Linked DNA regions of Homo sapiens. The protein of the gene in region 1 interacts with the protein of each later gene in a pairwise test. Each region holds a gene or a part of one and is shown on either strand. Other genes may lie near its edges.

Evidence for each region.
Region 2: the proteins of DCAF13 (region 1) and WARS1 interact in a two-hybrid assay, tested with the Homo sapiens proteins (one large-scale study listed by BioGRID and IntAct).

What each region holds. Positions count from the first base shown.
Region 1 is NC_000008.11:103,421,325-103,426,330, reverse strand, and holds part of DCAF13 (DDB1- and CUL4-associated factor 13), read right to left. Parts: intron 276-5,006; coding exon 186-275; intron 1-185. UniProt on the Homo sapiens protein: Part of the small subunit (SSU) processome, first precursor of the small eukaryotic ribosomal subunit.
Region 2 is NC_000014.9:100,368,198-100,373,203, forward strand, and holds part of WARS1 (tryptophan--tRNA ligase, cytoplasmic), read right to left. Parts: intron 1,062-5,006; 5' UTR 989-1,061; coding exon 890-988; intron 1-889. UniProt on the Homo sapiens protein: Catalyzes the attachment of tryptophan to tRNA(Trp) in a two-step reaction: tryptophan is first activated by ATP to form Trp-AMP and then transferred to the acceptor end of the tRNA(Trp).

The DNA.
Region 1 (5,006 bases):
AAAATTCTTTAGCATCAAAGGACTTTAGCTGCATTAAATATTGCGTAAATGGGTCAACAATTACAGCCTAAAGTCTTTCGTTTCTTATCTGCATCTTCTTCCCCATCTTAGGAAATTATAACTATAAAATAATTTTAAATAAAAGAATGTTAATAGGCAAGCTATTAGTCAATTTACTTTTGTACCTTTCCTAATATTGTATGTAATGGCTCTTCCTCGTCTCCATAGCCTGGCCCATCCATTTTCCACTGCTTCACAGTTTTGTCATCACCAACCTAGAAATATTTGTTTTATTATGATGATGGTAAGGAACAACAGTTATAAATTAAAACTTGCCAACACATATCAAATAAGTATCTTGTTTAAAACAGGTAACATACCATATCATTCCAGTATTACACTTATTGATCCATTTATATCCCACCTTGTTTTAGTAAAGATTTGTGACAAATACATAAAGTACATAAAACTAAAAATATAATGAGTAGAGCAAAAGAAAAACAAGAACAGGGGCAAAGTTAGGTCATGCATATTGTGATAAACATGGCATTTCAACTTGGAGAAAAAATGGATTATAAAAAATGGTATTATAATATCTGGTTAGTCATTCAAAAAAATTGAGCCAATTTGATGCCTTATGTGAAAATAAAATTCCAGGTAATTTTAAATGTAAAAAATAAAATGAAAAACATGAAAATACTGGAGAGAAGGCATTGTTATAATATTGAAATAGATAAAGTCCTTTTCTGCATGAACTGCAGAAACTACTAAGTCAGTGGTTTTCAAACTGTGAACTTTGGGCCTCTGGAGGACCCTGAGAACTTTTCAGGGTCCACACAGTCAAAACTATTTTCATAATGTTAGTAAAGACATAGTTTGTCTTTTCACTGTGCTGACAGCTGCACAAATAGTAAAAAAGCAACAGTGAGCAAAACTGTTGGCACGTTAGCCCAAATCAAGGCAAAGCAACAAACTATGGTAATTTAGACATGGGTATTTGGCAGACATGTTTAAGCTATCAGGTGAAACAGACTACAAAACAGAACATATAATGTAGTTTGAGGTTGAAAACAAAATCATAAATGTGGTACTGTATAACTGCATACATACAAAACTGCTAGTTTTAACTTAAAATCTTACATTTATATATTAGATGCAATCTATATCCACTTTTTGATAAAATCATTAACAAAGATATCTTTATCTAAGGGAAGAGTATGAATGTAGCTCTTTTCTTACAGCAAATTCAAAAAGGAAAACGCTTCTTGCAAAACAGTTTACAGTGCCCATGAGATGAAAACAGATAAGTGATCAGGAAAGGTTTTGGTACTAAGATTACACAGCGATGTCTTTTGTTGAGGATGTCGATGAACAGAATCCTTAACTACATCCTTGTTATAGACAAAAAGTATTTAATAGGGCTACATCTTATTAACAACTATGAATCTGAGCCACTGGCACTATACTAAAACTCAATTCTAGAAACCTGATTCTACTGGGAGACTAAGATGTAATCTAGGTACCAGGTCTTGACTGATCTGGCTTGACCCAAAGAGACATTTTAGCACTTACAGAATACAGGATAAACTGTGTCCCTGAGCACCCCGTTCCTGAAGACGCTATCCCTCCATCAAGTTTCTGATAGTGTCTGCAAGCTCAAGACTGAATTTGCTTGTAAATGACCAAGCTGTTCTGCCGTCTACTGAGTACAAACCTCAGCGGACCACCAATTCTGGGAAGGGTTTTCTCATTTTATAGAAATGAGTAGCCGAACAAGAATATGTGCCTGGCTAGAACATCTCATCTCCAGGCTGGTTATGCTGAAGAAGGAATTGTTGGTATTACAAACTGGTATATCTTAGTGAAGTTTTAGGTAATAAAAGTTTATGTTTTGCAACACTGTGTACTAAAATTTTTAAAAACATTCTTAAAGTTGTACCAGCAAGTAGTCTTCACATGTGTCTTATCTCTGACAAAGCACACATTACTCAAAAATATCTTTTTGGTTGGGCATGGCGGCTCGCGCCTGTAATCCCAGCACTTTCAGAGGCTGAGGCGGGTGGATCACTAGGTCAGGAGATCGAGACCATCATGGCTAACACGGTGAAACCCTGTCTCTACTAAAAATAAAAATAAATAAAAAAATTAGCCGGGAGTGGTGGTGGGCACCTGTAGTCCCAGCTACTGGGGAGACTGAGGCAAGAGAATGGCGTGAACCCGGGAGGCAGAGCTTGCAGTGAGCAGAGATCATGCCACTGCACTCCAACCTGGGCGACAGAGGGAGACTTCATCTCAAAAAAAAAAAAATCTTTTTGAAAAACCGAGAAACAATAAGGTGGGCATGGTGACTCATGCCTGTAATCCCAACACTTTTTGGGAGGCTGAGACAGGCTTGAGCCCAGGAGTTCAACATCGGCCTGGGCAACGTAGCAAGACTCTGTCTCTTTAAAAAAATAAAGTGGGGGGAAATAAGTGGTGAATATGAAACATTTTCAGTCTTTATTCATTTCTTAAAATGTTTTTTATTTAATTTACAAATAAAAGATATATATTTATGATGTACAACATTGTGTTTTGATACACGTAGACACTGTGGAATGGATAAACCAAGCTAATTAACATATCTGTTACCTCACATACTTATTATTTTGTGGTGAGAACATTTAATTCACTTTCATAGCAATTGTCAAGAGAGCATGTTGTTATTAACTATAATCACAGTGTTGTACAACATCCATCCCATCTATTTGAAATTTTGTCTCTTTTGACCAACATCTCCCCAATCTCCCTCCCTCAAAGCCCCTAGTAATGACCATTTTACTCCATTTCTAAGAGTTTGGCTTTTTTAGATTCCACACAACTGAGATCATGTGGTATCTGTCTTATTTAACTTAGCATCATGTCCTCCAGGTTCATTCATGTATGCTGCAAGTGACAGGATTTCCTTCTTTCTGAAGGCTGAATAGTATTCCTGTGTGCGTGTGTGTGTGTACTTTTTTTTTTAAAATTCATTCATCCATTGCTGGACACTTTAGGTTGATTCCATATCCTGGGTATTGTGAATAATGCTGCAAATGAGCCTTTATTCATTTTAAGCATTAAAAAAAAATACACTAAGTCCTCTGGCTGAGCTATTAATCAATATATCCAAGAGAATAACCAAGTGTAAGAAGCCTTAGGTGCCATCCATTCCCACTTGCCAATCAATTCCTTGCACAACACTGGGCTTGCAGGGTCAGGCAGCTTATCTGCACCCCTCTAGTGAAAAGTAACTGAATGCTTTGCAAGGTAGCCTATTCTGCTTTTTGACAGCAAATAAGTTTTTTTTTTTTACACCAAAACCGAATCTTTTAACACTAACACCTATTTCCAGTGCCTCTCTATGGAGCAACAAATTAGTCTATTTTCTTTTTCACATGACAATCTTTCAAATTGTAGCTATCAGGTTTCCCAGAAGTCATCTTTTCCCTTTATTATTCTCTTGCAATCTAGCTTCTGCACCCAGCCAACCTGGATTGCAACCTACATTTTATAACTCAGCTCAACCTGTTTTTTAAAAAGTCACCAGTAAATAAAGAATAAGGAAGATCTATTTGACTGATTAGCGCATGTGTATACAAAAACTGTTGTATAGGTAGGTCAAAACACTTGAAAAGACATACACCAAACTAATAGTGTTAGAAGTGAAAGACTAGAATTATGCAATCTTTAATTTTCTATTTTTTACATCTCTACATTTCTAAAATGTTTTCCTCAGTCTTCATTTTTCATTATTCTTTGTAGTAGTTCACAAAACTGACTATTCCTTCCTCCTAGGACACTATGCTCATTCACAGATTCTTTGAGCTCTGGCTACTCCTAGAGTTTTCCCACTTCCCAGAGGTGGGCATTCCCCAAGGCTACTTCCTTGACATCTTTGTATTTCTATATTTTCCTCCTCATTTCCTCCCAATGATGCCATACTATGGCTTCAATGATTAGTTCTATATTGATGATGTCAAGTTCAGCTCTGACCTCCCTCCTGAGCTCCAGACCTGCATCTGTAAAGGTATGACAGACATCTTCACTCGAACAGCCCATTAGCAGTCCAGTTTGTCACATCATATCCTTCCCATTGCCACCCTTCAAAACTTGCTGGTACTCCTCAGCAACAGGAACCAACCTCTTCCCAGGCACCTCTCAGTTGTCAAACCTGTCAATCCTCCAAAGTATCAACCACTGATTTCTAGTTTTCAGTCTCCATAATAAGGTAGCCTCTTATTATTGCCTGCCAAACTATTAAAATGGCCTTCAAACTGATCACTAACTGCTGTCAAATTACTTAACTCAAAGCACAGCTCAGATTTTGTCGTTCCCCTTGTTTAAAAAGACTTTCAATGAACTTGAATTGGTATTTGTACACCAATGGTCACGGCAACACTATTCACAATAGCCAAAAGGTGGAAACAAATCAAATGCTCATTGATGAATGAACGGATAAACAAAATGTGACACATACAATGGAATGTTATTTAGCCATAAAAAGAAAGGAAATTCTGACATGTACTACAACATGGATAAACCTTGAAGACAATTATGTTAAGTAAAATAAGCCAGACCCAAAAGCCTTATTCCACATACACAAAATGGTATAATTCTTTAAAATATGCTTCTATTTATATGAGGTACCCAGAATAGTCAAAATCACAGAGGCAAAAAGTAAAATAGTAGTTACCAGGGGTTGGGGACTGAGGGGACAGAGGAGTTATTGTTTAATGACTATAGTTTCAGCTGGGGATGATGAAAAAGTTCTGAAGACAGATGGTGGTGATGGTTGCACAGTGATGTGAATGTACTGGATGCCACCAAACTGTATATTTAAAAACAGAGAGTAAATTTTACGTTCCGGATATCTTGCCACACACAGGCACAAAACTTCGATGATTCCTTATTATCTGACTAACAAAAGTACAAATTACTCATCTTAGCATCAAAAATCCTCCAGAGTAAGCCAAACTCTTTCTAGA
Region 2 (5,006 bases), on another chromosome or scaffold:
ATTATCATTAGTATCATTGACATAAAAAAGTCAAGCAAACAGATATTAAGACAAATATTAACTCCAGAGAAAACAAAAGCTGGGCGAGAAAGTTAGAGTACTCATTCTATCCGTGATGGTTCAGCTGTCCACGTCTATTTCCATGGTCATAATAATGTCAGTGTACAGATACTGACCTAACTACAACTGCAATACAGATGGGGAGACTGCCTGGACGGGAAGTGGTTGTGAAGGTACGAATGCTTCATTTCCACCTGAAAGACCCCAACTTGAAAATCAACAAGGAACAATATGATAAGCAGAATATTTACAGATATGGGGAGTACATAACCAAAAGATCGGCTAAAAGAATTGAGCAGGAAATAGGGAGAGGTGGGCTGGAGGGCCACTGTATTTCACAAAGGCTTTGAGAACCCCTGACTCTTTAGACCACAGGCATCCCAATGTTGATAAAGGAAAAATACATTTAAAACTATAACCAAGGCTGGCGTGGTGGCTCATGCTGGTAATCCCAGCACTTTGGGAGGCCAAGGTGGACAGATCACCTGAGGTCAGGGGTTTGAGACCAGCCTGACCAACGTGGTGAAACCCCCATCTCTACTAAAAATACAAAATTAGCTGGGTGTGGTGGTGCATGCCTGTAATCCCAGCTACTTGGGAGGCTGAGGCAGGAGAGTCACTTGAACCCGGGAGGCAGAGGTTGCAGCAAGCTTAGATTGCACCATTGCACTCCAGCCTGGGAAACAAGAGTGAAATTCCCTCTCAAAAAATAAAAAATTATAACCAAAACACCTCAGTCATTGAGGAAACCATCTATTCTAGAGGAACACAACCCTACAGACTTGGGAGGCTCAGCTGCCTTCGTGGAGAACCCAGCAAAATCATGTACCTTTGACGCATTTCCCGCTTTGAGGGACCTTACGAGCTCCCCTTGTGTGGCGATGCTGTTGAACAGCTCCAGCAGAGATGCGGGCTCACTGTTGGGCATGTTTGCTATCTCTCAGGAACTACGTTCACAGCCGGCCTGAGGTCAGAGGATTTGTTCAGCAGACGAGTCAAGACTGGGGTGGGGGCGGGGAAGGAGAGAGAGGAAAAACCAGAGGTTAACACAACATCGCGGCTGTTTTTCCTTTCCTGTATTGAGTCCTTTTTTCCGAAAAGGTTGTGAGGTGAGTTACAGTAAAGGACATAGATAATATAATAAAAAGAGAACCAGAAATTTGGGGCCATGAAGAAGAGGAAAACCATCAAATGCCAGTGATGAAGACTAAAGGAGTGGCTAGGATTTACTGACTTAAGGTGTGAATCTACTTGACTAGGAGGGGCCCTCCTAGTCAAGATCAAGTTTGCATCTGGTGATGCCCCTGTGCCCCCACCCAGTGCCCAGAACACAGGAGGACTCCTGTTTGCTCAGGGTATAAATACCAATGTGTTTTAATGAACTTAAGTTCATTGCTAAAAACTTTTGGCAAATTACTATTTGATTTTTTTTTTTTTTGAGATGGAGTCTCGCTCTGCCACCCAGGCTGGAGTGCAATGGTGTGATCTTGGCTCACTGCAACCTCCACCTCTGGGGTTCAAGCGATTCTTCTGTCTCAGCCTCCTGAGGCTGCCTGCCACCATGCCCAGCGAATTTTTGTATTTTTAGTAGAGGGAGGGTTTCACCATGTTGGCCAGGCTGGTCTTGAACTTCTGACCTCAGGTGATCCTCTCACTTCAGCCTCCCGAAAGTGTTGGGATTATAGGTGTGAGCCAAGGCACCCATCCTCTATTTGTGGTTTATCTTAATTGCCTTGGGGATGAATTCTTGGGCTTTTGCAGCCATAACTAATATATCGCTGAGCAAATGTCTTCCACTGCTGGTCAGCTGCTCTCAGACAAAGTGAGCTCTGGGGTGGAGGACAGGGCCTTACCTGTCCTAGGTTCCACATGAGGTAAGGACTGTCTCCAGTCTGTCCATTCCACGTGCTGCCTTATTTAACTACAAGCCTTTGCAGAAGGTGTGTCTGCACCTCCTATTAGTCATGATTCATTATAACCCTTGCAGGAAGTGGGGACATGGCAGACAGAGACTGTATCGCCATCAAACCTTTCTTGGCTCAATCACTTCCTAAGAGTCAAGTTTCCTAACCTATAAAATGGCGCCACCAGGAACTTCATCTACCCCAGGCTCTTATGAGAACAAAATGAGAAAAAAAAGGCATGGTAGCACTTTGTAAACTGTAAAGCAAGATGTAACTACGTTACGAGTGCTGTTATTAAATTTCTTGTGTTTCTTAGGATTCCAAAGATTGGCTGAACTCCAGCTTCATTTTAACTTGCTGTAAAACCTTGGAGAAGGAAAATGACAAGGCTAGTGCCTGAGCTGCTAACTTTGAACACCTCTGTACCTGTTATTGTTCTAAGCACCGTATATGTATCAATTCACTTAAGCCTTGCAGCAGTCCTATGAAATAGATTTGTAATCTCCATTTTATAGATGAGGCACAGAGGGGTTAAAAAAAACTTGCCCATGGCTGGGCATGGTGGCTCATACCTGCAACCCTGGCACTTTGGGCAGTATAGTGAGACTCTACAAAAAAATGAAAAAAAAAAAAATTAGCTGGGCATGGTGGTGGGCCTGTAATCCCAGCTACTTGGGAGGCTATAGCAGGAAGATCACTTGAGCCCAGGAGTTCGAGGCTTCAGTGAGCTACGTTTGCGCCACTGTACTCCAGCCCGGGTGACAGAGTAAGACCCTGTCTCTAAAAATAAAAATAAAATAAAATAAAACTTGCCCATGTTAACATCACAAGGAAATGGCAGAGATGCGTTATAGACTCTAGTAGTTTGACTCTAGAGCCTACACTTTCAACCATTATCTTACAAATGACTTATCTTTATGAACCAAACATATACATTTGTGGTGTCATTTATTTTACTCTATCCTATCCATTTGTTAAATATTTGCTTTAAAAGTACGTAAATTGGCTGGGTGTGGTGGCTCACGCCTATAATCCCAGCACTTTGGGAGGCTGAGGTGGGTGGATCACCTGAGGTCAGGAGTTTGAGACCAGCCTGGCCAACATGGTGAAACCCCGTCTCAACTAAAAATAGAGAAAAATTAGCTGGGCATGGTGGCGCACACCTGTAGTTCCAAATACCTGGGAGGCTGAGGTGGGAGAATTGCTTGAAACCAGGAGGTGGAGGTTTCAGTGAGCTGAGATCACACCACTGCACCCCAGCCTGGGTGACAGAAAGGTTCTGTCTCAAAAAAAAAAAAAAAAAAAAGTAGGCCAGGTGTGGTGACTCATGCCTGTAATCCCAGCACTTTGGGAGGCCAAGGAGGGTGGATCAAGACCAGCCTGGCCCACATGGTGAAACCCCATCTTCACTAAAAATACAAAAATTAGCCAGGCATGGTGGCATGTACCTGTAGTCCCAGCTACTTGGGAGGCTGAGGCATGAGAATCACTTGAACCTGGGAGGCAGAGGTTGCAGTGAGCTGAGACCATGCCACTGCACTCCAACCTGGGCAACAGAGAGAGACTCTGTCTCAAAACAAAAAAAATTCCAAAAAGTATGTAAATCACGGGTGCTGTGAGCGGTGGCTCACAACTGCAGTCCAAGTGCTTTGGGAAGCAGAGGCGATTGCTTGAGCTCAGGAGTTCAAGAGCAGCTTGGGTAATGTCAGGTCTCTGAGCCCAAGCTAAGCCACCATATCCCCTGTGACCGGCACGTACACATCCAGATGGCCTTAACTGATGACATTCCTTCACAAAAGAAGTGAAAATGGCCTGTTCCTGCCTTAACTGATGACATTCCCTTGTGAAATTCCTTCTCCTTGCTCATCCTGGCTCAAAAGCTCCCCTGCTGATCACCTTGTGACCCCTGCCACCTGCCCGCCAGAGAACAATCCCCTTTGACTATAACTTTCCTTTACCTACCCAAATCCTATAAAACGGCCCCACTCCTATCTCCCTTCCATGACTCTCTTTTTGGACTCAGCCCGCCTGCAGCCAGGTGAAATAAACAACCTTGTTGCTCACACAAACCCTGTTTGGTGGTCTCTTCACACGGACACGAGTGACACGAGTGAAAGGTAACATGGATAGTGAGACCCTGTCTCTCCAAAAAATTTTTATAAAATAAAAAAACAAAAATTGAAAAAAAAGTATGTAAATCAAAACTTATTTAATTCAATGAAACTATAATACTGAAAACCGGGACAGGACAGCAGCCAGTTTCTTTCTCCTCCTTGATGAGAACCACCTCAGTTCCCAGAAAGGGAGGTTTGGTGAGATAACTGACTCAGATAAGAAAGCATCCAGTTTAGGGAGGAATGCCGGAGTACCCTCTGCCTAGGGCTAGAGAGAACTCTCAGGCTCTCCCATTCCCTCCCCAGCAACAAGCTGAGCAAATCAGTCGAAATCCATTTCTCTCTAAGGTCTCTGTCCATATCAAATAACGATCAAACTCATGAAAATTACTTCTAGCCACAAATCATCAATCATCATGTCCAGAAACCTATCCTGAATTCTCCCAACTCTCAAAGCTGGGTGTTACTCTATGTGCCCTGCAATAGCAGACAAGAGGCTGATGGCTCCATTACCAGGGAGTAGCTAAGCCAGAATCTGATTCCCAAGCCCCCTTGCTCATGTGCTCTCTCAGAATCCCTGCTGCTCCCTGCTGCCTGCCTGCCTGCCTGCCTGAAATGTCTCACACCCTTCTCTGCCTGAACTCTGCTGATTGATTATCTTTCCAATTTGAACCTCAGCTCTTCACAGCCTCTCCTGACACCTATGCTTCTGGGAACAAGTTGGTTGCTCCATCCTTTGTGATCCCCAAACACTCCTTTAGTAACTTTATGAAAGCACTCACACTGCAGTTTAGTTATTCATGTCTTCCCCAGCAGACAGCAAAGGTAAGCCCTGGGTTTATTCTTCCATGTACCTCTAGTACCTGGCACACAGCTTATCAAAAAATATTTACCTAATGAATGAATCTCCTTAGTCATCTAGTTCAAC